Linked DNA regions of Homo sapiens. The protein of the gene in region 1 purifies or fractionates together with the protein of each later gene. This does not show direct contact. Each region holds a gene or a part of one and is shown in the gene's direction. Other genes may lie near its edges.

The links.
Region 2: the proteins of RHEX (region 1) and WDR47 purify together in Homo sapiens (affinity purification with mass spectrometry; 3 studies listed by BioGRID and IntAct, with this or other methods). This does not show direct contact.
Region 3: the proteins of RHEX (region 1) and DIP2A purify together in Homo sapiens (affinity purification with mass spectrometry; 3 studies listed by BioGRID and IntAct, with this or other methods). This does not show direct contact.
Region 4: the proteins of RHEX (region 1) and JPH1 purify together in Homo sapiens (affinity purification with mass spectrometry; 3 studies listed by BioGRID and IntAct, with this or other methods). This does not show direct contact.
Region 5: the proteins of RHEX (region 1) and SBF1 purify together in Homo sapiens (affinity purification with mass spectrometry; 3 studies listed by BioGRID and IntAct, with this or other methods). This does not show direct contact.
Region 6: the proteins of RHEX (region 1) and PLXDC2 purify together in Homo sapiens (affinity purification with mass spectrometry; 3 studies listed by BioGRID and IntAct, with this or other methods). This does not show direct contact.
Region 7: the proteins of RHEX (region 1) and TMTC4 purify together in Homo sapiens (affinity purification with mass spectrometry; 3 studies listed by BioGRID and IntAct, with this or other methods). This does not show direct contact.

Annotation. Positions count from the first base shown.
Region 1 is NC_000001.11:206,059,419-206,063,487, forward strand, and holds part of RHEX (regulator of hemoglobinization and erythroid cell expansion protein), read left to right. Parts: intron 1-4,069. UniProt on the Homo sapiens protein: Acts as a signaling transduction factor of the EPO-EPOR signaling pathway promoting erythroid cell differentiation.
Region 2 is NC_000001.11:108,969,430-108,973,193, reverse strand, and holds the end of WDR47 (WD repeat-containing protein 47), read left to right. Parts: intron 1-1,621; coding exon 1,622-1,764; 3' UTR 1,765-2,980; downstream 2,981-3,764.
Region 3 is NC_000021.9:46,556,075-46,560,143, forward strand, and holds part of DIP2A (disco-interacting protein 2 homolog A), read left to right. Parts: coding exon 1-17; intron 18-328; coding exon of another isoform or gene 329-355; exon of another isoform or gene 356-764; intron 765-864; coding exon 865-995; intron 996-1,510; coding exon 1,511-1,679; intron 1,680-2,148; coding exon 2,149-2,319; intron 2,320-3,759; coding exon of another isoform or gene 3,760-3,789; intron 3,790-4,069. UniProt on the Homo sapiens protein: Catalyzes the de novo synthesis of acetyl-CoA in vitro. Promotes acetylation of CTTN, possibly by providing the acetyl donor, ensuring correct dendritic spine morphology and synaptic transmission.
Region 4 is NC_000008.11:74,258,674-74,262,742, reverse strand, and holds part of JPH1 (junctophilin-1), read left to right. Parts: intron 1-3,239; coding exon 3,240-3,358; intron 3,359-4,069. UniProt on the Homo sapiens protein: Junctophilins contribute to the formation of junctional membrane complexes (JMCs) which link the plasma membrane with the endoplasmic or sarcoplasmic reticulum in excitable cells.
Region 5 is NC_000022.11:50,450,467-50,454,535, reverse strand, and holds part of SBF1 (myotubularin-related protein 5), read left to right. Parts: coding exon 1-24; intron 25-4,069. UniProt on the Homo sapiens protein: Acts as an adapter for the phosphatase MTMR2 to regulate MTMR2 catalytic activity and subcellular location. Promotes the exchange of GDP to GTP, converting inactive GDP-bound Rab proteins into their active GTP-bound form.
Region 6 is NC_000010.11:19,822,580-19,826,648, forward strand, and holds part of PLXDC2 (plexin domain-containing protein 2 isoform 1 precursor), read left to right. Parts: intron 1-4,069. UniProt on the Homo sapiens protein: May play a role in tumor angiogenesis.
Region 7 is NC_000013.11:100,667,983-100,672,051, reverse strand, and holds part of TMTC4 (protein O-mannosyl-transferase TMTC4), read left to right. Parts: intron 1-1,482; 5' UTR 1,483-1,689; coding exon 1,690-1,692; exon of another isoform or gene 1,693-1,769; intron 1,770-3,257; coding exon 3,258-3,473; intron 3,474-4,069. UniProt on the Homo sapiens protein: Transfers mannosyl residues to the hydroxyl group of serine or threonine residues.

The DNA of each region.
Region 1 (4,069 bases):
AGATGCTATTTATCCAAGGTGGCTAGTAAATTGCCTTAGTGATCCAATGGGTTCCCCCCACCCCACCTTGGCCACAGTCTCTGCATTGCACAGCCAGCTCCCCAAGACATGTGGCCTGAGGGGTGCTATCTGCTATAGGGCTGAATCATGCAGCTTCACTTTATGGGGAAGAAACAGGAAGGAGACTGAATGCAGATAAAGAGAGCTTTGGGTTTGGAGTCAAAATGCCTGACTCCAGTCCTGGCTACAGCACTTGCCTCAGGCAAGTGCCTTCCCCTGAGATTCCTCACCTATACAATGGGAGGGTTTAAGATTCCTTTTAGCTCTGAGAATCTATGGACAGAATGTGGCTGGAGAGGGGATGGACTTTGTGTCTCCATCCCTCGAGGCAGGAGAAATTCTTTCCTGGTGTGAATAATTCTCCCCTTCCCCACCAGAGCATGGGCAGGCTCCCACGCCTGCCACCTCTTCCTAGCCGTAGCTCTACTGGCCTTGCTTATGTCCTGATCCTGTCAACCCCTCTCACATGCCCTCCCCCAGGTACCTAGCACTGCACATCCTGGTTATCTCTTTTTCTGGACCTCCTGTCATATCTGCTAACCCTTGGTAAGAATGGTAGAGCTCTGGAGTGAAACAATCACATGGAGGCAGCAGAATATACTGTGTATGAACACACGACTTAAAGTCAGAGAGATGGAGGTTTATGTCCAAACTCTGCCACTTACCAGCCCTATGACCCTGAGCAAGTGTGATCCTCAAGAACTGTTTTTCTTTACTGTATAATAGGAATAATGATTGTTCCTATCTCAGGTCTATATATGAAGATTAAACAAGATAATGAATGTGCCCAATATATACTAAGTTCACAATAAACAGTAGCTAATATTACCATTTAGGATTCTGTAGAGCTCATTTGCATAGGTGTGCAAGAATTACCTTCCTATCTCCTTCGTATTACTTTCCTCTCCTTCCCCTTATGCAGAGAACATCACCACCCTGAAGCCAGAGACTAACACTGCAGGACTCAGCAGGTGGGTGAGAGAAGGGCTGGATCCATGAAGGAGGAAGGTGGGCTCCTGGGGAAGGATCTGTGGGGATTGGTGTGAGTGGGGGCCATGGTGATGGAGGCTAGAGCTGAAAAGAGGGGCTAAAATGGAGGCAGGAGATGGTTGGCCACTAAGGAGGTGAAGCCTGGAAGTGGGAGAGCTTCTACATGGGTGAGGAGGCCCCAGGGCACTTTTGTGGAGGGTCACCAAAGCCAGCCAGAGCAGCTGGATGGTCCTCATGTCTCTTAGTTGCTTCCTTCAGCCTAAGCACAGCAGCCACAGCCCTTTCTGGCTCCATTGCTGTGGTGTCCCTCATCTTGCTCCTGGTGGGTCTCTTGTCCATGACCCTGAAGAAATGGAGGCAAGAGAGTGAGTTGAACAAGCTGGCCCTGGAACTGGGAATGAAGAGAGGAGAAACTGGGGGCAGAGATTGGGGTGTTTTTCCTATGGGGCAGTCTTGTCGGGGAGGGGAGCGGGTAGTGGGAGGGTAATATGAAGGAGATATGAAGATAAGACCTCTTCTCTAGACTTGCTGGGGACTCTGTACACAGCAATAAGAATTACTCATCACACAAGTTCTTCATGCTGAAAGCTATATATAGTATAAGCCATCTGCATATATGCTTATGGCCTATATGCCTCAGCTAAAAGAAATACTGATGCCAAATAATCTCTTCTAAATAATAAACAAAATTATAAATTATAAAGCGTACTCATTTCCCCTGTGTCTTCCTGGGAATTTAACTTAGTCTCAGAGGCCCAATGGGCTGAGTGTGGTGGATTTTGCATTTCAAAGTTAAGCCCTAAACCCAGCAAACAACCAAGTAAAGATGGTTATTAACCCAACTCAGACTGACTCTGAGTTTATCCATTTTTCTAGGACTATTTAAGAAACAACTGAGGCATCAGACCAACTTTCCCCACAAGTCCTCGGTAAGGAACTAGTCCAGTCGCATGTAGAGAGGGGGATCCTGGCCTTCTGGCTGCTTCCTTACCTAGACCCCACACAGAGGGTGGTGGGAGGAGGCGGGGGGCAGATCTGGAGGAAATGCCTATGAAAACTGAGATCTAGGGCTTGTGCAGCAAGAACTCAGCATTCTACTTGCTGTCCTGTAGGGACAGCCCAATGCCTTGTTTTGTCTTTGGAAGTCCCTGGTGCCCAGCCATCTGCCTCTAACCAGGGTTCTATCTCTAAAGGATCTTTCCTGCCATGCTGATGCCATATATTCCAACGTGATCAACCTGGCTCCCCAGAAGGAGGACGACTTTGCTGTCTACACCAACATGCCCCCTTTTCATCACCCCAGGAGGACATTGCCAGACCAAGTGGAATATGTCTCCATTGTATTCCACTGATGGGAAGCTAATGAGATGCTCAGAGTGGGGGTCAGACCTGGCCCCAGCTGAATCTTGGCATACCCTTTGCTTTAGATTTATGTGTGTGTTTAAAAAAAAAAAAATACATAGGCCAGGCACGGTGGCTCACACCTGTATCCCAGCACTTTGGGAGGCTGAGGCAGGCAGATCACCAGGTCAAGAGATCAAGACCATCCTGGCCAACATGGTGAAACCCCGTCTCTACTAAAGATACAAAAATTAGCCAGGTGTGGTGGTGCATGCCTGTAATCCCAGCTACTTGGAAGGCTGAGGCAGGAGAATCACTTGAACCCAGGGGGCGGAAGTTGCAGTGAGCCAAGATCACACCGCTGCACTCCAGCCTGGCAACAGAGTGAGACTCCATCTCTAAAAAAAGTAAATAAATAAAAATAAAACGTAAAACATATTCTGATGGAGGTGGATGGCTAGACATTTCTTCTGATTTATTAGAATCAAAGTACTGTTCTAATAGAAAGGAGTGACATACAAGAAACACAGGACATGCTCGTCCAGATCACCCCCAGCCCCAGAGGCAGGCTCCTGAGACAGCCTGGCCAACAAGGAAGCCCTCTGAGCTCCTGCCCCTCCTGAGGCAAAAGGGCCGAGGAGGGGGATTCAGACCATTTCAGGTCCAGCTGCTTTTGTCTCTCCAGTCTTACCCTGTCAGGAGTTAACACCCCATGGGTGTCAACTTAGGAGTCATGCTTGTATCTGTGATCACGTGCATGGCTGACTGCCTCGTGTGTCTGCACAATACAACTGCTGGACAATATGCCAGATGTGGAGGAGGAGGCATAGGGGGGCTGCAGGTGCCTGGGAAGTGCTTCTTACTGAGGAACTTGGTGAGCTCCCAGGAAGCATGGGGGCCACCTGAGAAAGGGGACGGGGGAGGAGTGCCAAGCGGGAAGTGGGCTGTGTGTCACCACTGGCCAGGAACAGCTCCCGTGGGAACTGTGGTAGATGACTGGAACTTTACAATTGATTTACTCCTTCTTTTCGTCATTCACAAGTAGTCATTAAGCACTTCCGTGATCTAGGTCCTGGGAATACAGCAGTGATCCCAACAGACAAAGCCTTGTCCTCACAGAGCTTACCTTCTAGAACGAACAAAGAAACACATAAACACACAAAATGTCAGATGGTGGGATGTGCTACGGGGAAATAAAGCAAGCATTCCCTACCCTACACTTCCTTGTAAGAGGTAAGAGTGGGTTGCTAGTTTGTATCAGGTGTTCAGGGAAGGCCTTACTGACATTTGACCTAAAAGAAAGGTAAGAATGTGACACCTGATGATAAATAGGGAAAGAGTATTTCAGGCAGGAGGAATGGCAGTGCAAAGGCCCTGAGGTAGACGTGTACCTGACATGGTCAAAGAAAAGCGAGGAGATGAATGTGTCTGGAATGGAACTGGGGGGTTGCAAGGATCACAGCAAAGATGTGGGGAGAGTCAGGGTTCTTCACTATTAGGAGGGGGCTTGGAAAACGGCAAGTTTCAAGCATGGCTTGTGTTTTAAAAAGATTTTTCTGCCTCTCCCTCTCCCTCTCCCTCTCCCCATGGTCTCCCTCTCCCTCTCTTTCCACCGTCTCCCTCTCACGCCAAGCCAAAGCTGGACTATACTGCTGCCATCTCGGCTCACTGCAACCTC
Region 2 (3,764 bases), about 97 Mb from region 1:
TAATTGGAGTAGGTCTCTCCAAGGAAATGCCATTTGCATAGAGACCAGAATGATGAGGAGGAACAAGCCAGGCCAGGATATTAGGAGAAGAGCACAGCAAGTATAAAGATGCTGAAGTAGGAACCAGCTTAGCACGTTCATGACACTACAGGAAGCCAATGTGCCTGGAACTTAGTGAACTAAGAGAGAGAGACACAGAAGAATAAATCAGAGGCAGGGTTTTATAGACTTTTTTTTTTTTTTTTTCTGAGACAGAGTCTCGCTCTGTCGCCCAGGCTGGAGCGCAGTGGTGCAATGTCGGCTCACTGCAAGCTCCACCTCCCAGTTCATGCCATTCTCCTGCCTCAGCCTCCCAAGTAGCTGGAACTACAGGCGCCCGCCACCACACCTGGCTAATTTTTTGTATTTTTAGTAGAGACAGAGTTTCACCATGTTAGCCTTGATCTTGATGGTCTTGATCTCCTGACCTCGTGATCTGCCTGCCTTGGCCTCCCAAAGTGCTGGGATTACAGGCGTGAGCCACCGCGCCCGGCCTATAGACATTTTTTTTAAGGGCTTTATTTTTAATAGCAGTTATAGGTTAACAGCAAAATTGAGAGATACGGAGATTTCCCATATACTCCTGACTCACACATGCATAGCCTGCCTCCCCCATTATCAGTATCCCCTTCCACAGTGGTACATTTATTATAGTTGGTGGGCTATAAGCATTTTAAAAAGTATAATGTGAAGCCTTTGGAAGATTTTAACTGGAAGGGATAGGAGCTGAATTATATTTTTGGAGAATTTGGGGTTCTGTAGGGAGAGTAGATTGTAAGGGGGCAAGAGTAGAAATATAAATGTCAGTGAGGAGGCTGTTGGAATAGTTCAGGTGAGATGATGGTGGCTTGGACTAGGGTGGTGGAGGTGGAGGTAGTAAGAAATGACTAAATTTGAGATATATTTTGTTTGGATCAGCTTTGAGGAGTGAGGGGAAAAGGAATCAATGACGATTCCTAGGTTTTTGTCATGAGCAACCAGATGGTGCCATTGAGATAAGGGAGGCAGGTAAGGGGAGGAACAGGTTTAGGCAAGAAAACCAAGAGTTTGGTTTTAGACAAGTTTAAATTAGGATGACTATCAGACAAGTGAGATATTGAATGACTATTTGGATACTAGTCTGGAGCTCAGATGAGAACCAAGATTGGAGATAAAATATGTATGAATTGTAAATATATAAATGGCCATGTTGCTAGATGAAATTTTTTAGGAAGTTAGGTACAGAGAGAACAGAAGAAATCTGAGGGTTGACTCCTGGGATTCACCAAGCTTTACGTCAAGAAGAAAAGGGAAACTAGCAAAAGATGAAGTGGCACTGAAATCAGGGAGAAATCAAGTTGAGAGAATTTCCGAGAGAGAGAGAGAGGCAACTTGTCAAATGTTGCTGTATGGGTATATGTTAGCAAATACTAATAGCATAATTAGGTAGGTAGTAATTTATCCCTGTATAAACCTTTCAATGTATTATATTAATGTAGTTTAAGATTTTTTATACTGTAATGTCTTAAAGTAACAGGAAGTCTATACAATCTATACATATACTTATTTTGCATTGTAAATCAACATCTCTTTTGTAATTTAGGGGACCTCACCAAGCAGCTTCCTATCATGGTGGTGGGGGAGCACAAGGACAAAGTGATTCAGTGCAGATGGCACACCCAGGATCTTTCCTTCCTGTCATCCTCTGCAGATAGAACTGTCACCCTCTGGACTTACAATGGGTAGAGCACACCGCATGTCAGTCTATGCAGCAAAAGCACAGAGACTTAAGACTACTGAGTTGTGAAAATTACAAATCTGAAGAACATAGTGTCCAGGAAAGTGGTTTAGCACGAAGAGGCCCCTTATTACCATGTATCCCACTGATAGGAGGTGTTGGGTGGTGTTATTCCGCAGTGCTTTCAGTCTTCCATGTGAGCTCGTGCTGCTGTGACCTGCTATATGTAGTCTCGTTGCCAAAGTCTGCAGAAGAGCTCTTCAGTTGTTGGTGTGCACTCCAAGTCAGGATGGACAATGTGTTTACGGTTTAGTATTCAATGCATTCCTTGGTCTTTGCCTAAATAACAGTTTTATATGCACATTGAAATGGAATTATACTTCAACTATATTATTAAATGTAATGCAACCAAGTTCCTCCCAGATTAAACTTCCCAGGTGTTCAGAATTACTTTTGCTCTTCTCACGATCCCATATTGTATTATCACTTGTCTTCTAGAGGTCAGAATTCCATAATATATGTCACTCAAAAGTTACATGGTTGCTTTCACTTAAGGATCATTGTGGAGTTTAAAGATGAATGAAAAACTGCTTCTTAGTTTACTACATGGTATAGGCCCTTTTTTCTTAAACCCAGGGATATGATTATTTTGTCATATAATTTTGTTTCAGGCTAAAAGGTAAATGTGTTTGCTTCAGAAACTTGTTAACTTCAGTTTTTTGAATGCAACAGGATACCTCCCTTCCAAACTGAACTGTAGAAGCAGAGCAGCAGCAGTTATGTGATGCAACACTTGATGGTACAGTAAATTTACTGGCATTTTTCTCCTTAAAAATTAAAATCCTTGACATAGACCATAGCATGGCTTGAAATGCTATGTCTGCATGATAATTTAAAATGGAAGATTTAAACTTTGCACTCCAAAAGCTTATTTGGATTTTTTTCTTGCACTGTTTTGTGTAATGCAGAATAATGATTTTATTTCTACAGCTTTGTAGATTCTAACATTTATGTATCTTTATTTTCATATTGTACAGTAATTTTACTTTAAATTATTTAAATAGGCTATTTTATTTATTTCAAATGCAGTTGTATTAGTTCTCATTATTGAACTGTCTGTGCACTGTATGTAGCAAGCATTTTTCATCTGTTGTATACAAGTGGAAAGGGTATTAGAAGTGTAACTGTGCTATTATTTCAATAAAGACCTCTTGACATTTAAAACTGTTTCTGTTCCTCAGTCTTTGGCTTTCAAAATAATGTTATTTTTTCAGTTTACTGGGAGAAAGTGAGGTCCAGTGGATGAAGTCCATAATCAGTTTCTTAGATTTCTTTCTAAAGTTCTTCTACTAATTTGCTTTTTAATCCTTGGCAACTGTATAACTTATTAACAAAAAAATAATTTTTCTAAAAATGGGGTCTTGCTTTGTCCAGGTTGGTCTTGAACTCTTGGCCTCAAGTGATTCTCCTGAGTCAACCTCCTGAAGTGTTGGGATTATGGGCGTGAGCCATTGTGCCTGGCCTGTATAACTTTTGTGTGTCTTCTGTCTCTTTTATCCAAGATTTAGAGAACTTTCTATCCTTAATATGTTGTGAAAGTTGACTAATAAAAGCCTAACAATATGTATAAATTTGAACTCAAGAGTATGAATATGTCGAATTAGGTAATCACCCAACAGGTTCACCATGCCCTCTGCCTAGATAGAGCCAATTTATTCAAGACAAGGGAATTGCAATAGAGAAAGAGTTATTCATGCAGAGCCAGCTGTGCAGAAGACTGGAGTTTTATCACTCAAATCACTCTCCCTGAGCATTCCAGGATCAGAGTTTTTAAGGATAATTTGGTGGGTGGGGTTCACTCCTAGTAAATTGGGAGTGCTGATGGGTTGGGTTGGAGATGAAATCATAGGGAGTCAAATCTGTCTTGAGTCAGTTCCTGGGTGGGGGCCACAAGATGAGCCAGTTTACTGATATGGCAGATGTCAGCTGATCCATCAAGTGCAGGGTC
Region 3 (4,069 bases), on another chromosome or scaffold:
TATTAGCGGGAGTGAAGGTAGGTCCTCTGAAATCTTGTTTGCTTCAGCCCCTAGAAATCAGGAGGAGTGGACAGAAAGGATGTCAGATGCAGATTTAAACTGACAGGTCCTTCTTATGCAAAGCACAAAGCAACAATTTTGCTTCTTAAGATTTGTGTTAAATACCAATAAATGCTAAGATGTGATTAGCCTGAGAGTAATGCGTTTTCTGATGCATTATGGTTATGTCTAAACTTTCTGATTTATGACTGTCTAGCTTACAGGAACTGGTGGCTTTGAAGAATCTCTTACCTTGCTGGGAGTCAATAGCTCAATTAAAATTTTTCAGGCGGGGCGTGGTGGCTCACGCCTGTAATCCCAGCACTTCGGGAGGCCGAGGCGGGTGGATCACAAGATCAAGAGATGGAGACCATCCTGGCCAACGTGGTGAAACCCCGTCTCTACTAAAAATACAAAAAATTAGCTGGGCATGGTGGCAGGTGCCTCTAATCCCAGATACTCAGGAGGCTGAGGCAGGAGAATTGCTTGAACCCGGGAGGCAGAGGTTGCAGTGAGCCGAGATTGTGCCATTGCACTCCAGCCTGGGCGACAGAGCAAGACTCTGCCTCAAAAAAAAAAAAAAGAAAAAAATTTTAAAAATTCATTACCCTGAAATTTTGTTTCAAAGATTTTTAGTGTACCATTTCTTGGGTATTATTTAGGTTATATGGGGATTTGAGCCAACCGTCTTTTAAGGAAATAAATATGATGTTTGGTAGTTCGGAGCTATGGTCTAGCCATGTGAACAGCGGACACTGCCATCCACCCTCTCCCCTCCTGAATTTCATTTCACTTTTTTTTTTTGAACTTTATTTTACTCTTAAGATGTCGCACGCGGCCACAAGCGCCTTATGCCGCTCCATAAAGCTGCAGTGTGAGCTGTACCCCTCGCGGCAGATCGCCATCTGCCTCGACCCCTACTGTGGCCTTGGTTTTGCCCTGTGGTGTCTGTGCAGGTGAGTGCAGGGCCCCTGCTGCCTGCCAGGTGGGAGCAGCTCGTGTGGCTCTTAGGAACCTTGGCCTTCTAAGGCACCTTTTCTGGGTGCTCAGGAAGCCGATGAGATGTGTGTGAGTGGGTTTGTTTGGGGATGAAGTGGGTTGGAGTCTGAGTCTGAAATTGAGTGAAAATACATTTTTCATTAAATACACTGTCCGTTATCAGTACTTGGGAAGAATCTGCTTGATTCCTTCAAACACTAGAAAGTGGCGATCCGTCTCTAGAAGTGAATGCCTCTGGAGTGGTGTCCCCGGATCCTCTCCAAGTGTTCGGAGCAGAGCTCAGAACCCCGTGCCTGCCATCCCCCAACCTTCACCCTGTGGCATGTTTTCCACCAAACCCCCCCACTTGGCGTCAGAACAGAAATCATGCCCCTGTTGTGGCTGGAAAAGAAGTGTTCTTGAGGAAGGGAAGAGTGGAGTGCCCAGGGTGCTGGGTGGGCGGGCGGAGCCTCACGAGCCTTCCCTCTCGCAGTGTCTACTCGGGACACCAATCAGTGCTGGTGCCCCCGCTGGAGCTGGAGAGCAACGTGTCCCTGTGGCTGTCGGCCGTCAGCCAGTACAAGGCCCGCGTCACCTTCTGCTCCTACTCTGTGATGGAGATGTGCACCAAGGGCCTAGGCGCACAGACGGGTGTCCTCAGGGTGAGTGCCCAGACCCGGGCTTCTGAGTGTGCTGCAGACCACAGCCCTGGGAAGTTTAAAAACAACAAAACAAAACAAGACTCCCAAGGCCCCTCCCTGCAGTTGGAGGAAGTAGAGAAAACCCTTTCCCACTAGGGGCCCTATGTACACATCTGTCCTCCCACGGCCCACCTGTCTCTGCAGCTCCACACCCCGCAGGAGAGGAGGGTGGGGGGTAGGGCAGGGTCCCTGCGAGATAGCGGGGTGGAAGTCTGGCCGCGTGGGAGGGCAGGTGTGGGATGCAGGTCAGATGGGAATCGTTTAGCGCATCCACACGTAGGATTCTGTGGAACAGACACAGCCTGCGGAGAGGAGGTTGGTGTCCAGCTCCACCTCTGTGTGCCCACCCGGAGATTTCCCAAAACAGTGCCCAGGGCCCTGGCAACTCACTGAGCTGTGGCCGTGGCCTGACCGCTCACCCCTCCCGCAGATGAAGGGGGTGAACCTGTCATGTGTGCGCACGTGCATGGTGGTCGCCGAGGAGCGGCCCAGGATTGCGCTGACCCAGTCCTTCTCCAAGCTCTTCAAGGACCTGGGCCTGCCGGCCCGCGCCGTAAGCACCACGTTCGGGTGCAGGGTCAACGTGGCCATCTGCCTCCAGGTGAGGTGCCTGGGGCTGCGGTTCTCGAAAGCTGGCTGTTGGCAGCATGGAGACCCAGTTTCCCAGTTGTTAATGTGCCGTTTTGTAGCCGCCTGATCTATTTCTCCTTCTCTGGGCCTTTGATATCTCATTTCCATGTAACATTTTAGCTTCAAGGGTTTTATTTTTAAAGATGTTCTATTCTAGTTGGAGAAAGGCTTATTTGGAAAAAAAACACATTGTTTTTGAACAGTGACTAATAACTGTAAGACTCTCTAAGTTAGATATAAAACACAGCTAAGTTCTTAAAGCAAGATTGAACTTACTGTTTTAAGATATCTAGCAATATTAAATTGAAACATTAATAAATGTGGTAATTTGTGTTGACTCAAATTCATTTCTGAAACCATGAAATGTCTTATTAAAAGGAAGCACCAAGTTTCAGGCCAGGAGTGGTGGCTCATGCCTATAATCCCAGCACTTTGGGAGGCTGAGGCAGGCGGATTACCTGAGGTCAGGAATTCGAGACCAGCCTGGACAATATGATGAGACCCCGTCTCTACTAAAAATACAAAAATTAGCTGGCTGGTGGTGCGCGCCTGTTGTCCCGGCTACTTGGGAGGTTGAGGCACAAGAATCGCTTGAACCTGGCAAGAGGAGGTTGCAGCGAGCCAAGATCTCACCACTGCACTCCAGCCTGGGTGACAGAGCGAGACCCTGTCTCAAAAAAAAAAAAAAAAAAAAAAAAAAAACATAGGTAGCACCAAGTTTCAGAGATTGAAGAGCTCACGGCAGTTCTGTTTATTGCTTCCTCAGATAGCTACAGCTGTTGCCCAGATTTTGTACTAGTATCTCAATTTCATTTCTTTCTAAAAACATCTTAAAACCAAATGGCTTTTTAGATAACCCTACATATTGAACGCCTTATTCACCCACATAGTACAAGAATAGCTGGAAGGAAATGGCACCTGTCCGTGCCAGAGCAGGGCTGAGTGCAGGTCTGTCTCTGTTTCCAAAGTGTTTGCTTGGCCTTGTGCCTCCCCATCACAGTGGCAGTGCACGCAGGGCAGGGCGGGGGCTCTGCTCACACCCTCTTCACCACAAAAAGACCCCTGACCACTCAAGCCTCAGACCCTTGTCACGCAGCAGAGGAGATCGGGCGGGAGCCTTTTGTGAGCTCGCTTCCTGTGTAGGCTGTGGCTGAGCGTGGGTGCCGGCCTTTGTGTTAGCGGCTCTGCGTCTGCAAGCCTGGGGCCTCCTTGCTAGACGTCGGAAGGGTATGGATGCCACACATGATTGCAGAAATGATGTTAATGGGATGTTCACGTTTGCTCTTTAAGATACAGAGGTGGGTTTTGCTCTCTCTTTCCCTGTGTTTCTCATGTGGCTGCTGCTTCTGTGTGTGTTTCCTGTGGCTGTCTCCTCCCTGTCTCACTCTGCTGCCTCCTTGGCCTCTGTCAGCCCAACAGGCTGGGAAAGCTGGCTGAGCAGGTATGACCTTGACCTTGACCTTGTTGGTGCCTCTGTGCTTCCCCCTCCCATGAGTTCATGTGACTTTCTCGTGAATTCTAGACAAACATGTTTCTTTTGCTGTCTTACTTTGTTCACAGTGGATATTACTTGACATATTACAAAAGCTCCCTTGTAACCAAATTTAAAAGTAAAACTATTTTCAAAAAATGTTAATGCTCATAGCATTGCCTTGGGAGGAAGGGCTGTGTTTAGTTCCAGTGCAGAGGTGTTTAATTCCAGTGCAGACACAGGTTATGTT
Region 4 (4,069 bases), on another chromosome or scaffold:
TAAGGTGCAACTCTTCACAAGTTAAAAATTCGGTTTATTTGTTAAAAATATATAGCCCTAAAAGAAAGTCAACAGCTGATGCTTAATTTAAAGAAGTCGCTTTTCAGTTACTTTTTACTGCATTTGATGGGAGAAAGTATTTGTGATAATGGTATTTGGAGATTCTTGAGGGTCTGAAGATTTGTAAAATGTCACAGTCTTTTGATAAATGAAATGCTTTTGGGGCACGTATTCCCCTTTGGTGTATGCATTTTTTGCCTGTGACCAGCAATAGCATCAGGGCATCCAGTTTGAGTGGTTTCAGCTTATCTCTCCAGACTGCCTAACCTGAATCCCACCCCCCAACGCAAGAACAATCGCAATTGACTGATTACAGGGGTCGTGTGTCACTCTGGAACTGAGCCTGGGATGTGATCACATGAATTCACTAACATGAGCCAGAGACAAGTCCAGATTATTCCTGGGCAAAATCTAGACATGCCAGTGGCCTTAGCTGTACAGGCTGGTGTTAACAGCAAACTCAGAGTGGGTTTCTGTTCTTCCTTCTTGTCATCGGTTCCAAAAGCTCTTGAGCAGACTTCAGGATTCAGGTTTGAATGTGGTCTTGACTCATCTGGCCAGCTATACAGTAGCACTGAGCCACAGAGCTGGGCTGGATAGAAAGGTCCTCCTTTGCTGTGTGGTCTTATAGGAAACAGCAAGTAAAAAAGTAAAGGGTTAAGTACTAGCAGGCTTCACTGATGCTGTGCTTCCAAAATATATTTGCAGAAAGGTTAAGCTGTATTTGTCTATTCTCTAGTTTAGCATATTATAAAAAGTGGTAGATATACTACTGCTGTTTTATTTGACTGTATGGTGGTGTGTCGTGATTGAATCCGAATAAGTTACTTGTACTTGAGTTTTGTAAATTTATCATTAAAGGGCTAATAGATAGTATTATAAAGCAGCATAGCTATACTCTTATGGCTTCATTAATTATGACACCTAGACATAATTAGGCTCTGGCTAAGAATAGCGGACAAAATGGAAAATCATTTGGGGGAAAAAAGTTTAGATTCTGAGAAACTGAAAGAACATTAGCGGAGGGCATCTGTTGATTATCAGGCACAACACACAGGACTAAGGCATTACCCATCGTACCTCAGCAATGGCACCCATGAGGGGTTATTCCAACAGCCAGTTGTTTAAGAATATGTCCCTCCCCTCTTGATGTTATTTCCATTTCATATTTCTTGATACCCCATACACAAATAATCTAAAGCATCCTCCATGGTTTAGAAATAGCAGTTTTGATGATTCGAAGTTGATCCACTCATTTTTAATGACTTTATTTTTTAGAGCAGTTTTAAGTTATCAGAAAAATTGAACAGGAACTGCAAAGTTCCCATACACCTCCTCTCCTCATGCACACACACAATATCCCCTATTATTAACATCTTGCATTTTGAGGTGCGTTTGGTGTAATTGATGAACCGGTATTAATATATTAGTATTAAAGTCCATAGTTTACATCAGGCTTCATTCACTGTTTGTGTTGTACAGTCTATAGATTTTGACAAATATGTAATGTCCCCCACTACAGTATCATGCAGAATAATTAAACTCCCCCAGATATGCCCTCCTTTCCACCAATTCATTCTTCCCTACTACACCCCGAACTCTTAGCAACTCTGAATCTTTTTACTGTCTCTATGGTTTTGTCATTCCATTCAGTTTTAAGAACTACCCAGCTTTTCCTAAGGAAGCATCATTCATTCCTTTATTCATAAAGTGGTCCCTCAATAAATAGTATGTGCCAATGTAGCGTTCTGCACTTTGGGATTATGACAGAGGACCAAAAATTAAAAATTCCAATCTTCACAAAGCTTACATTCTAATACATCAAGCCTTCAGGCTTGCTTAGATCCTAAATAGAAGTGAAAGGAGTCCCGTGAGAGCACAGGACAAGAGGAGGTTATTGAAGAGAGTAATGTGAAAAGGGGGCCTCCTACCAGTAGACCCCCTTGTCTCAGGCCAGGCCCGGTGCCTCCGTGTTTTGGTCCCAGGAGCTCCGCCTGCCAGCCTCCTCCAGCTGCTGCCCGTGTGTTCTCCCTGAAGAGCATCCAAAGCCCATGCCTTTTCCCAACTCCTCCTCTCTCCTGCTGTCTCCAACATAAGTGTAAGCACCTTTTTCAGACTTCCATTAAGTTTTCACTGCTAGTTATTTATAGCCCTGCCTAGTGCTAATAAAATATAATAGAAAATTTACAAAGTCATAAGAAATAGGTACCCATAAACATCTAAAGACTAACGGGACAAGGCCTTTCCCTTTGCAGAGCAGATAAACCAGAGTTTTTTTCTTCCCTCCAACCCTCTCTGGGGCCAGTAGACATCATTCCCTGGTGCAGCCATAAGAAGCCCTATTCTTTTTCCTGCCACTTTCCGCATAACCCTAGTCCTCCAGAAAGATGAGAGGTTTCCATGAGTGAGGACAGGCCAGGGAGGCGATGGAAGACTGAAAGATCCATTTCATCCTTGCCAGTTCTGCCTCGCTGTCTCCTTTTTGGTTCATACAAGAAACATGCCTAAAAGTCAGCTAAATGGGCTCCTCAGGAACCCTTCTGAGCATGTTCTTAGAGCGGGCCTTGTGGTTTGCTCCTGCTGGTGAGCACCAATAGTGCACATCTCCCCACTGCACATCCAACGGCATTATGCTGGTAGCCTGAAATTGGCCACGGTGAGAACATTTACACATGGATATGAATAAACACTACCAATCCCCATTTCACTAATTTTTTTCTTCAAAGAGCTACTTCACCAGCATGCCAGTGGGCAGATCTTTCTTAGTCAAATTCTTACATTGATTGTACCGTAGAAATGAATTTGATAAACACTATTAATTTATATGTTCTAATTCTACTTTCCATAATTTTAGGTGGGGGGGAGGAATGCCAACCAAAGTCAACAGGAGATTTGATCCAGTAAGTTTTGAAAACCACACTTAGCATCAAGCTACACAGACCTTGCTCTTACTTTTCATTTCCCTTGAGAGAAGGGCTAAGGCAATTCATGGGTAGTTTAGTTTCATCTATGTCATCTTCATTGAAATTTCACGGCAATAGGACTCTAAAATTTTTGCTCTTGTGGGTGTCGGGCCATAATCATAATTAACATTTCTTTTCCCAGATTACAATTTGCTTGTCCCTGTGTAAGTAACAAGGGGTCACCTATGCTGACTCGTCCTTTTGTGCCCCGTGTAGGACTGCACATGCCAGAGCGAAGGCCGATGCCGCCGACCAGGCCGCGCTGGCCGCTCGCCAGGAGTGCGACATCGCGAGAGCTGTGGCCAGGGAGCTGTCACCTGATTTCTACCAACCAGGTAAAACAGTGCTCCTTTGATGGGTGAGGCAGGAGCACTGGCTTTGGCTTGCTTTTATTTCCTTTTCCTTTCAACATAAAGATGTGTGCTTCCTGAATCCCAGCAGTACTATTATACAAAACAAGCAAGGGCGCCTGCGGTTGAGGATCCTTCATCTGAAGTGCTTGGGACCAGAAGTGTTTCAGATTTCAGATTTGTTGATATTTTTCTGTATTTGCATGTACACAGTGAGATCTCTTGAGCTGGGAACCCAAGTTGAAACACGAAATTCATTTATGTTTCATAGATACCTTATACACATAGCCTGGAGGTAATTTTATAGTATATTTTTAATAATTTTGCACATGGAACAAAGTTTTGACTGCATTTTGACTGTGACCATCGGTCATGTGGAATTTTCCACTTGTAGCATCGTGTCGGTGCCCACAATGTTTTGGATTCTGGAGCATTTCAGATTTTTGGATTAGGAATGTTCAACTTGTAGTAACAAATATCACCCGAGGTCTGAGTGTTAGCCCTGGAGATGGGTTATTCCCCAGAGTCTCACCCTTCCTCCCCTCTACATATGACCAACAAAGTTTGAGCTGATAGCAGTAAACTAGACAAGAATCTAAAATATCTGATTCTAAGAAATTATTTTAGTGACAGCTACAGATTCTATAACAAATACCCCCAAATTCAGAGGCACTTTTAGTAGTAAGAGAAGAGCCA
Region 5 (4,069 bases), on another chromosome or scaffold:
GACGCCATCTCACGCCTGCTGGAGGTGCGTGTGATCCCAGAGCAGGGTCTGGCCTGGCACCCCCCTCCTCTCGCTCAGACACCAGGGTCGTGCGTGTGTGTGTACACTCGTACATGCACGTAAGTCCGGTTACCCCTGGGGGTTGGTGTGGCCCTGCCGTCTCCCCACCATGTGAACTGCCTACTGGCCTGGGGTGGCTGTGGCTCCCCAGGGCCCCGCACCACTCAGTGGGTGCTTCCAGACAGTGACAGGAGGGCCGTCATCAGAGACCCTCAGGTCTCAGTACACAGCCTCCACTCTGAGCACGTGTGTTTTCCCTGACCTGGCTTTGAGCAGCTCAGGCACCTGTTGAGGAGTCAGCCCTTAGAGACGACAGTGTTTTACTCCCTCTGCCAGACCGCCTGCCCCACCTAACGTGAGCAGCTCTGGGTTCTTGCCCTGAGAGCTTGGGGTTGACATTGAGGCCTCTCTTACCCCTCACTGTGCCATCCCTGGTGGGCCTGGACTGAACAAGGCAGAGATGCCTGGGAGGGAGAAAGGAGACTGCGATTGGGTGGTGGCTGGGTTGGTGTGTAAGGCCTGAGGCAGTGTCCTGCGCGTGGTGCTACCTTTTGGGGCCATCCCGGAGTCTCTGTGGGACTGAGCAGGCAGAGGAGTGTGGACCTTGGACCTAGGCCACGGGGGGACCTGCACTCAGCTCCCCACTGTTGGCTGTGTGGCCTTAGAGGTTATCTTTTTTTTTTTATTTTGAGATGGAGTCTCGCTCTGTCGCCCAGGCTGGAGTGTAGTGGCGCGATCTCCGCTCACTGCAAGCTCCGTCTCCCGGGTTCACACCATTCTCCTGCCTCAGCCTCTCGAGTAGCTGGGACTACAGGTGCCCACCACCACGCCCAGCTAATTTTTTGTATTTTTAGTGGAGACGGGGTTTTACCGTGTTAGCCAGGATGGTCTCGATCTCCTGACCTCGTGATCCACCTGCCTCGGCCTCCCAAAGTGCTGGGATTACAGGCGTGAGCCACCGTGCCTGGCCTAGTTATCTAAGCATCTTAGAGCTTCTGGTTCCTTGTGCAGAAAGTGGAAATGCTGATTCCTGCCTTACAGGGAAGTTGTGAGGCTTAAATGAGTCATTTATTTCAGTGACTTAGCATGGGGCACAGGGTTTGGGGGAGTACGGGAGTCATGGTTTGTGATGGAGGTGACCCACAAAGCACAGACAGCAGTCCCTTTTTCTCTCTAGCGATGCTCATTGTCTTAAAGTTGACGCGGTCTCATTGGTGCTAACAGAGTCACTCAGCTTTGTCATGACCAGTGTCAGCTTGCTCTGTTGTTTTCTTGTATTTTTTACTGGTCTGTGTGTTTATGTTTAAGGTGAGTTTCTTGTACACAGAATGTAGATGTAGTTGGGTCTTCTTGTTATCCAGTCTAATGGGTTTTTTTAATTGGAATTTTTAGCCCATTTTAATTTACTGTTACTATTGATGTGGCTGGGTTTAAGTCTGTCATCTTGCTCTTTGTTTTCTCTTTGTCCCTTTGATTTTTTTTCCTTTCTTTCTTTTCTTTTTTTAAAAAACAAGTGTTTTTAGTATTCTGTCTACTGTGAGTTGAGCTGTACATCTCTGTGTTGTGTTTCAGGGGTTGCTGGGGGCTATAATCATCTGACTTGAAATTACATCACCCTGTTGACACCAGAAGAGCCTTACGGCAGTGTGTGTCCATTCATGCCTTTCCTGTCCTGTTACTGTCACACATTTTATTTTTACGTATGACATAAACACCCAGTATGGTTTTTTTTTTTTTTTTTTTTTTTTTTTTGAGAGATGGAGTCTCCCTCAGTCACCCAGGCTGGAGAGCGGTGGTGCGATCTCGGTTCACTGCAACCTCTGCCTCTGAGTTCAGGTGATTCTCCTGTCTCAGCCTCCCAAGTAGCTGGGATTAGAGGCACCCACCATCATGCCCGGCTAAATTTTTTTTGTATTTTTAGTAGAGACGGGGTTTCACTGTGTTGGCCAGGCTAGTCTCAAACTCCTGACCTCAGGTGATCCGCCCGCCTTGGCCTTGCAAAGTGCTGGGATTACAGGCGTGAGCCACCGTGCCCGGCCCTGTTTTTGTTTTAAATAGTCAACTTTGTTTTAAGGAAATTAAGAAAGAAGGAAAAAGTCTTCTATTTTTGCCATTTATAACATTCTTCATTCTTTCAGTATAATCTGGTCTGGTTATTATTTCTCTTCAGCCTGAAGAATTTTTAATATTTCTTGTAATGCAGAGCTGCCAGTCACAAATCCCCTCAGCTTTTGTTTATCTGAAAACATCTTGGTGCCTTTATTTTGCAAAGGGCATTTTCTCTGGATATGCATTTCTAGGTTGACAGCTGCTTCTTTTTTTTTTTTTTTTTTTTAATTCAGCAGTTAAACTGATGTCACTTTAAAAGATCTCATTACTAGGCTGGGCGCAGCGGCTCACGCCTGTCATCCCAGCACTTTGGGAGGCTGAGGCAGGTGGATAACCTGAGGTCAGGAGTTCGAGACCAGCCTGGCAAATATGGTGAAACCCCGTCTCTACTAAAATATAAAAATGAGCTGAGCATGGTGGCGGGTGCCTGTAATCCCAGCTACTCAGGAGGCTGAGGCAGGAGAATCGCTTCAACCCGGGAGGTGGAGGCTGCACTGAGCTGAGATCGCGCCACTGCACTGCAGCCTGGGCGACATGAGTGAGACTCTGCCTCAAAAAAAAAAAAAAAAAAGATATTACTTTGTTTTCTGGCCTGTATTGTTTCTGCTTAGAAGTTGGTGTTGATTCTTATCCTTATAAACTGTGTATAATGGCACCCTTTGATTCTCTGCCTTAAGATTTTGCATTTAATTTTGGCTTCAGCAATTTGACCATTGTGGTTTTTGCTTTCGTCCTGCTTGGGGCTCTTTAAACTTCTGGGTCTGTGGGATGATCATTTTTGTCAAATTTAATACATTTCAAGCCATTGCTTCTATAAATTACTTTTTCTGCATGATCTCTCCCTTTCCTTCTGGAACTTTATTGTCCCATACGTTGCTGAAGCTCTGTTTGTTTTTTCTCAGTCTTTATCTTTGCAATTCATTTTGGATGATTTCTGTTGGCTTGTCTTCAAGTTCACTACTCTTTTCTTTCTTGTTTTTAATATACTGAAGCCCATCAAATGAATTTTTTTTTAATTTCTTGAGACAGGGTCTTGCTCTGTTGCCCAGGCTGGAGTGCAGTGGCACAGTCATGGCTCACTGCAGCCCGAACCTCCCAGGCTCAAACAATCATCCTGCTTCATTCAGCCTCTTGAGTTGCCAAGACTACTGGCGTGGGCCACGTGCCGGCTACTTTTTTTTTTTTTTTTTTTTTTTTTTTGTAGAGATGGGGTCTCCCTATGTCACCCAGGCAGGTCTCAAACTCCTGGGCTCAAGCAGTCCTCTCACCTTGGCCTCCTAAAGTGCTGGGATTACAGGCATGAGCCACCACACCCGGCCCCATCTAATGAATTTAACGCTTTTTATTGTAGAGATTCCCCATCTGATAAACCATTATGTCCATCTTTTCTTTTAAATCTTGAAACATAACTTAAAAATATATATAAAGATGGGGTCTTGCCATGTTGCCCAAGCTGTTCTCACACTCCTTGGGTCAAGCGATTCTCCCTCCTCGGCCTCCCGAAGTGCTGGGCTTACAGGCGGGAGCCACTGTGCCCTGCCTGTGTTGTCTTTCTTTAAGCTTAGAGTCTTGGGTTTTATTCTCGCAGGTAGGTAATGAGCTTGTGCGTCAGCTTGGTCTGTTTGAAGCTTGTTTCTAAGCTTTGTTTGGGCAGCTCTCCAGCACCTCTAGAGAAGCTCCAGGGATAGAGCAGCCCAAGGCGTGTGGCCTCTCCAGGGCTTCAGTTGGAGTTTTGTGTCTTTGTGTCTTCGGTAAGGTCTTGCCACACTGGCTTTTTGGAAGTCCAGTATCTTTTAGCATTCCTCTAGAATTTGGGTTCAGCTCATAGTTTTGTTTTTTTTTTTTTGAGGCAGAGTCTCACTTTGTCTCCCAGGCTGGAGTGCAGTGGCGCACTCTCGGC
Region 6 (4,069 bases), on another chromosome or scaffold:
ATTCCCACCAACAGTGTATAAGGGTTGCCTTTTCTCCACATCCTCACCCACACTTACTATCTATTGTCTTTTTGACAATAGCCATCTTAATATTAGTAGGTGTGAGATGATACCTTATTGTGATTTTGATTTGTATTTCCCTAATGATTAGTGATGTTGAGGACCATGTCATATGCCTGTTGGCCATTTTTTTTGTCTTCTTTGGAGAAATGTCTTTTTTAGGCACTTTGCCTATTTTAATATCAGTTATTTACATTAAGCCTTCTGTTGATAGATAGGACTTTCAAAAAGTTTATTCCACTATTTTCCTATACTGCTAGTTTCTTTCTGGATGTTTACTTACTTTTTTTTTTTGAGACAGAGTCTCGCTGTTTCTCCCAGTCTGGAGTGCAGTGGCGCGATCTCAGCTCACTGCAAGCACCGCCTCCCAGGTTCACGCCATTCTCCTGCCTCAGCTTCCCAAGTAGCTGGGACTACAGGCACCCGCCACCACGCCCAGCTAATTTTTTGTATTTTTTAGTAGAGACGGGGTTTCACTGTGTTAGCCAGGATGGTCTCGATCTCCTGACCTCGTGATCAACCCACCTCAGCCTCCCAAAGTGCTGGGATGTTTACTTATGCTTTTAATTTAATATCTTAAAATATGATATACATATATATGTACATATGCATACATATATGGTGGTGGTGGTGTTTCATTTCACTGAAGATGAAGACTATTAAATAATTTTGGTTCTTTGTGGGATTCTTTTTGAATTAAACTGTTTTAGGCCTCATGTCACTAAACTATAATGAAGGAGGCTGTAAAAATATTGTCTCGGCTGGGCGTGGTGGCTCACACCTGTGATCCCAGCACTTTTTTGGGAGGTGGAGGTGGGTAGATCAAGAGGTCAGGAGATCAAGACCATCCTGGCCAACATGGTGAAACCCCGTCTTCCCTAAAAATAAAAAAAATTAGCCAGGCATGGTGGCATGCACCTGTAGTCCCAGCTACTCAGGAGGCTGAGGCAGGAGAATCGCTTGACCCGGGAGGTGGAGGTTGAGATTGCGCCACTGCACTCCAGCTGGGCGACAGAGCAAGACTTCATCTCAAAAAAAAAAAAATTCTCATAAAACTTGTTTTGAGGTGAGGTTCAGTGGCTCACACCTGTAATCCCAACACTTTGGGAGGCCGAGACAGGGGGATTGCTTGAGTCCACGATTTGGAGACCAGCCTGGGCAACATAGGGAAGAGACCTCATCTCTACAGTTTTTTTGTTTTGTTTTGTTTTGTTTTTAATTAGCTGTTCATGGTGGTGCACACCTGTAGTCCCAGCTACTTGGTAGGCTGAGGTGGGAGGATCACTTGAACCCAGGAGGTCAGGGCTGCAATGAGCTGTGATTACACCACTGCATTCCAGCCTGGCCAACAGAGTGTGACCCTGTCTCAAAAAGTAAAATAATAAAAAATCTTGCTGTGGGAGCTGTTACAGGGAAGCAGATGAGGATATTCTGCAATACATTTCACGGTGTCTGCTCCCCAAGATATTATGCCATGAGAAAATGAGAAAGAGAAAGAGACAGAGACAGGGTGAGAGACCTTATGTTTCAATAACAGACATAGTTCTTTTGAACTTGTTTGTGTCTTCTGGACATTATAAATAGTACCTAGGAGTTTTACCATTTAACTTTTGGTTTCTTGAAATCTCAGTGCAAGATTTGTGGCCCACCTCCAACAAGCATATAAACCTTCTGGCCTACATTTGTGTGCTAGCTTACCTATGTCTTCATCTTACCTTTTCTACCTTTTCTCACTTAAAATCTTGTTTGGTATTTGTTTTGGAGATGGGAAAAAAGCAAATAAAATTGAATCGCCATAATACATAAGGTTGTGTATCACTAAGTTGCTTTCCACTTTCTCTTAATCTGATGAATTCCAGCCCTTTGGCTTTATTCTGAGCACATTTTCCCAAAGCTGTAATTATCTCTGTAGAGTACTCCATTCTGAGAGGTCTTTCTTCACTGAGTTCACACAGGATATCTTCCCTCACTGCCTCCCACACAATGATTCTGTTAAGCTGAGGAAGTTACTAGAGAATGACAGGCTAAGTAGTGATGCTTTTATTAAGAAAGTTTCTTCCACTATTTATTGTGTTATACATTAACAGGATAATAGCTGACAAAAGATGAGAATATAAAATATTCCACATGTGTTTATAACCAGACAGTGAACTCATTTCATATTTATTGTTTGGTTTTATTTTCCTCTTTTTAATTAAAAAGGTGGTAAGCTGTGGAATGATGGTATAGATTTGTATATTTAAATAGAATTAGAGGTCTTGTCAGGGGCCTGTTTGGAATTAGCCTGTTAAGGATTACAGATCTGAACATGGGGTCAGACACTAAGTGACGTTACTGGATATCCAGACTTTTAAATCTCTTCTGTCAGAGGCCATCAAACCAGATCTAAGCGCTGGTACCTTTACCTTACCCTTCAAATTAAAATAGGCTGTCCTCACTCTTTCTGCTTGAGGCCTTATCATAGTTAGTGGTCTGTGAATTTTGTCAAGAGAGGGTCACAGGCCAAGATGCAGACTGACTTCCTTTTTACTTGTCTGGAATCTTATTACTCAGTTCCTCAATTATTTTTTACTCAATAATTGGACATTTTCCTTAGAATCCATGTTGTTCGAGGTCTCGTCCTGTAGGTAAGGTGTGTAGCTCATTGAGGCTTTGAGAATATGGAGAGAATGTTAAGAGTTTGCCCTATGGAAAAACTGCATAGGAATCCGAATATTTGAAAGTCAATTCTCTATGTATTCCTTGGAGTGTTCAGTGATACAAAAAGTCTAAATAAAACTGATATATTCTCTTTGAGTATGATGCTTGGTAAGTACACTCTGGTTCATTTTGCTTAGGATACTGTATTCTTGGGTCCAGCTGGAATATGGAACATTGAACATTCGATAATGTTTTTTGGGTAGTAGTTACAGATATCTGCTTACAGTAGCAACTGCTTACAGTAGTAACTCCTACCATTTTCTGTCTGAAACCATTATATGAACATCCAATAAAATATTTATTTCCCTAAAGCCTAAAAGGGAAGTAGGACAGGCAGAATTTATCATTTAGAGCATGAAATGTACCAATAATGATGAGTTTTAAGATGGGAAAGTATTTAAGGTACATTTCAGGTACTGCTCATGCTGAATCTATTATATCTATTTGCTGAATTCTTTCCAACATACAAACTTAGACTGTAGCTACCGCTGACCTAATGAACCTGGTTATTTATATGCTGTCTTTTTGTTCATTTGTCTGGTCAAAAGGGCCCACTCACCTTCCTGTGGGCATAGCTGGCGGGAGCAAGTCTGGTATTTCAGCTGACTTCTCCTTTTGGCTTTCTCTTCTCCTTCTCCTTTTGCTATCTTTTCTCTTCAATTCATTGAAAAATGTCTATATATAAATTACATAAATGCAATCTGCATTGCAAAATATCCCAATGAAAAGTATATATGAAATAATTTTTGGCAAACTGAGTCATGTTCTTAGTGGATATGGGTTCCTGTGATTTCAAGGAATGCTGTCCTGAACTTTTAATTTAAAAACATTCAACCTCCTAATTATTTTGCCAGTCCGTAGTTTTATGTTTAAGATTGCCCAAAATGTACTGCCTGTCCATAATTCTTTCAAGAATTATTGCTTCTGATATTAGCCATTTTAATTCTATTTACTATTTATATAGGTCCTGGGAATATACACCTTTGAATTTTTTGTTGTTGTCATTTAGCCCTTTAATTTGCTAATTCCAGGAAACAAAAATTGAACTAAGAGACATACCACTGTGTCTTTGCACTTTTTTTCTTGGTGCTTGTTTGGAGCAGAAACAGGAGGGTCATTTTAGTTTTTTTGTCATACAAGAAAAATTTGAAGAATATTTTAATACTTTGAAAACTGTGGATGCCCTGTGAAAATCAAGTTGACTTGTGAGGTTAAAACAAATTTTATTTCACATTTTAGTTTGAGAGCATTCTTGCTATATTACAAAGATATTGCTCAGTGCTTTATTTTCATATGCTGGTTTTGTTAA
Region 7 (4,069 bases), on another chromosome or scaffold:
GTACTGTGTTGTGCCAGTGAGGAAATTGATTCTTAGAAAGACTAAGCAGTTCAAGGTCGTGCAGCCGGCAAGTCCAGGTTTGTCCGTCACCAGAGCCTTTGGTCTCAACCACTGGACTAGACTGATCACTTTGCCTGGCTTTCTAACAAATTGTAGCTTTTTTTTTTTTTTTTTTGCGTTTGCTAGTGAAAGGCATTTTCCAAACTGTTCCACTATGTACGTTAACAGTAAATCCCTTCAAAGAAAAGAGCATTTGTGAGTATTTTCAGTGGCAGCAAAGAAGTGGGAGGCCTTGGAGAAAGGAGAAGGAGCCCCCTGAGATAGAGAAGCAGGGGAGTCACAGCAAGGAGGGGAGAGCCAGCCAGAACTGGGAAATGATGTAGGGGCAGGGGCGTTGGAGGTAGGCCAGGTTTCCTGCTGTCCCTGCAAGAGCAGAGGAGGAGATCATCTGAGATCCACTGAGTCAGCCATCCACTTGACTTCCCAAGAGTCTGGACCTGGCCTCCTACCAGGGCATCTCGTTGATGGTGTGGTCCACAGTCTGCCTTATATATCCTGGGGCTGTGGCTTGGAACATGATTATGCTTAGAACATATTGCTTAGAACACGTTTATGTTCTAAGCAATCTGAGGTACAGTCGCTAATTTAGGAGCACAAAGTATTTCCTGATTTAGTATTCTACTTAGAAGGCCATTTGAACCTTGACAAACGTTTGTGAAATAATTTTCAAATATTTGAGCCTGAAGCAGATAATATCCAGGCTCAGTGGCACACTCCTATAGTCCCAGCTACTTGGGAGACCGAGGCAGGAGGGTTACTTGTGCCCAAAAGTTGAAGCTAGTCTGGGCAACATAGCAAGACGCCATCTCCAAAAATATATTGCATGAGCCAATAAATTCACTATTGAAACAATAAAACAGATAACGTCAAAACCGGTTACATGACCTTTTGTCAGCTCATGACTCTATTGTGCATTTAAAATTGCTATAAATTATTTGTTTTCCTTCACATTTAATTTTCTAAAATTTCTCCCCATGTTAAATCATAGTATCTTCCTAACTATTCAGTATTTGGCTTTGTTGGGCTTTGTTGTTGTTTGAGACAGGGTCTCACTCTGTTGCCCATGCTGTAGAGCCGAGGTGTGATCTCAGCTCACTGCAGCCTGGAACTCCTGGGCTCAAGCAATACTCGCACCTCTCAGTCTCCTGAGTAGCTGGGACTGCAGGCATACGCCTCCACACTCAGCTAATTTTTGTATTTTTTTTTGTAGACACGGGGTTTCACCTTGTTGCCCAGGCTGGTCTCGAACCTCTGGGCTCAAGCCATCCACCGGCCTCGGCCTCCCAAAGTGCTGGGATTACAGGCGTGAGCCATTGCAACCAGCCTTGATTTGTTGTTTTTTAAGTAGCAGGAGTAATTTCTTTAGCTGAAATGTAAGCATAGAGGTTGGGGTCTGTGTGCTAACCTGTGTTGTGTTTGCAGTTGTAATTTAGATTCGAGAAGTGGTTTATCCTTTGACTGGAAAAGAAAAGTAGCTGCAGTATTCCCCCAGCACTTGCTGAGAGCATGCCGTATGCCAGGCTGTGAGGCTCGAGAGACAAGCAGTGGAAGAGTTGCGGCCTGTTTCATCTCTGGATTGTAAATCTGAGCCTCCTTCTGGCCCCTGGAAGGGGACAGCATCACCATGGAATGGTGTGTCCCGTTGCCTGTTGGATCTGTCTCCATCTTCACTCAGACAGAAGGCTATAGAAAGATGCCTGTGACTTCAGGTGGCCTATTTGGCTGGCTTCTTATTGATTCCATAATCTGGGGTATCCACTTAGAGATCCAGAAACAAATACATCCAAACTGCCTTCCCAATCAGGGGGCTGGAATTCTCTTTCATCTCAGCAGGAAAAGAACAGGGTCCAGGTCCCTTAGTAAAGACAGGAGCCTCGGTACCAATCAACCAGCTACTAAAAGGGATTTCCCACAGAAAATCATTCTGTGCCTCTGCTTTCAGCCTTCTGGAAGAAAGTATTAGTAATAGTAGCCGGCCTCCCCTGAGCCTTCATTACAGCCAGGCAGTGCTGGGAATCCTATTTAACCCTCATGACAACTCTAGAAGGTAGGCACTCTTACCATCCCCATTTTAGTGTTGAGGAAACAGGCCCAGAGAGGTCAAGTAAGTTGCCAGAGGTACCCCAGGTCAGAACCGAGCAGTCTTACCCAAACCTGATCCTGGTAAATCCAAAGAAAGCACCTGTCCAGGATGTGGTGGGAATGGGGACAGATAAAAAAGTGCGAGTTTGGGGGTAGGTTGAGATTTGTTTTGGCGAATTCCAAGGCGGGAAGCTGTTAGGCACCGCTGACCACTGGGCGTTAAGATGCTTTGCAGAGGGCCGCAGGGGGTGGGCTCAGAGAGGAAAGGGGTTGTGCACAGGACCGCACAACTAACACATGGCAAGGATGAGGCACAGGCATCCCCGGCGAGAAACATTATGCCCATTTGAAAGAAAAGTTCAAAATAGGATATATTTTTATCTTGACTCTTTCACCAGGATTGAAGGTCATATCCTCACACAGAATAGCCTCCCTTCCTTTCCTTTGTATGGCTCAGCCTTTTCTGGGACAAGATATTGTCCCCACCAGTCATTTCCTCTATCTGTCCTCTGTGTTGAGCCAGTAGCCTAGGAACCCAGCATTCGATCCTGTGCCCCGCCTTAGGATTTCTCTGTTCGACTCCCCTGTCTCTGTGTCAGAGTCTCAGCTCCCTGGCCTGTGTGCCTGAATGCTACAAATAGACCATAAGCTCTTTCAGAAGCAGGGTTGTGTTTTACACACGACCCTCTCCCCTGCCACACACACAGTGTGCTAAAACCCAACAATGACTATTTATTAATTTTTCTGGATTGGATGAGGTAGGATGGTAACTTTTTTTTTAAGCTTTGTAAACTGGTTCAAGGACGATTAAAAATGATTTGCCTTGTGGGGTTGATGAGGATACCATTACATTCGTATTTCTAAACGATATTCTGGCATCAGAAACCAAAGGGCATCTGATTTGATAGATCCTGTGGTCGGACCCAGGAATCTGCATGTGTCCCATGTGACTTTTCTGCCCACTAAAGTTTGGGAAGCACAGCTTCAAATTGTTACTGATCACATCCTATAAAATCATAGCATAAATGACTATCTAGCTCTTACTCACGGTGCCCACTGCAGAAACGGTCCTACCAGTGTTGATGAATATTTATACAGTGTTGTTTTTCCTGCAGATTCCTAACCAGCATAATGCTGGAGCCGGGAGCCACCAACCTGCAGTTTTCAGAATGGCCGTGTTGGACACTGATTTGGATCACATTCTTCCATCTTCTGTTCTTCCTCCATTCTGGGCTAAGTTAGTAGTGGGATCGGTTGCCATTGTGTGTTTTGCACGCAGCTATGATGGAGACTTTGTCTTTGATGACTCAGAAGCTATTGTTAACAATAAGGTTTGTATCTCAACTCTTTTCTGGTAAACTTAACTGCCCAACTGTGTCTCAGTAATCATCTAAGTATGTGTTGCATTGTTCTCTGTGGAATGTAGGTTAAGCATTGGCCTGGGCCCCGATGGTGCTCTCGATTTTTCTCTCTTTTCAACATCGCCTCCATGATTTAGTGCCTTTCTTATTGCTGGCACCAAGGTTCTGAACCCCTGCCTCAGCTCAGGCACTCCCCTCAAGAGCTCCAGTCCACATATGGATCAAAGAGGCCGTTATTCTAAGATTACAAGGCAAGGGCATTGCAGGGTGTTGCAGACTTAGTATTCCAGATTTTGCAAAACATTTCCACAGTTGTTCAAAAAAAAAAAAAACCCATCACGCATTTGCTGCAGTGATGGACGGGTGTGATCACCTGCCAGAAGGTGCATCTTCAGCAGCAGGCAGGGAGCTGGCTGCCGCTTTGTCCTTCTCCGAGACTGTCGGGACAGCCTGCTGACAGCTGCTGGGGCAGGAGGAATGTGCTGCCCATGGGCGCTGCAGTTCCTGCTTGTTTCGTGTTTGGAGATTCGGTGTTGCTGAACTTGCAGAATCCCAGTCAATTTTGC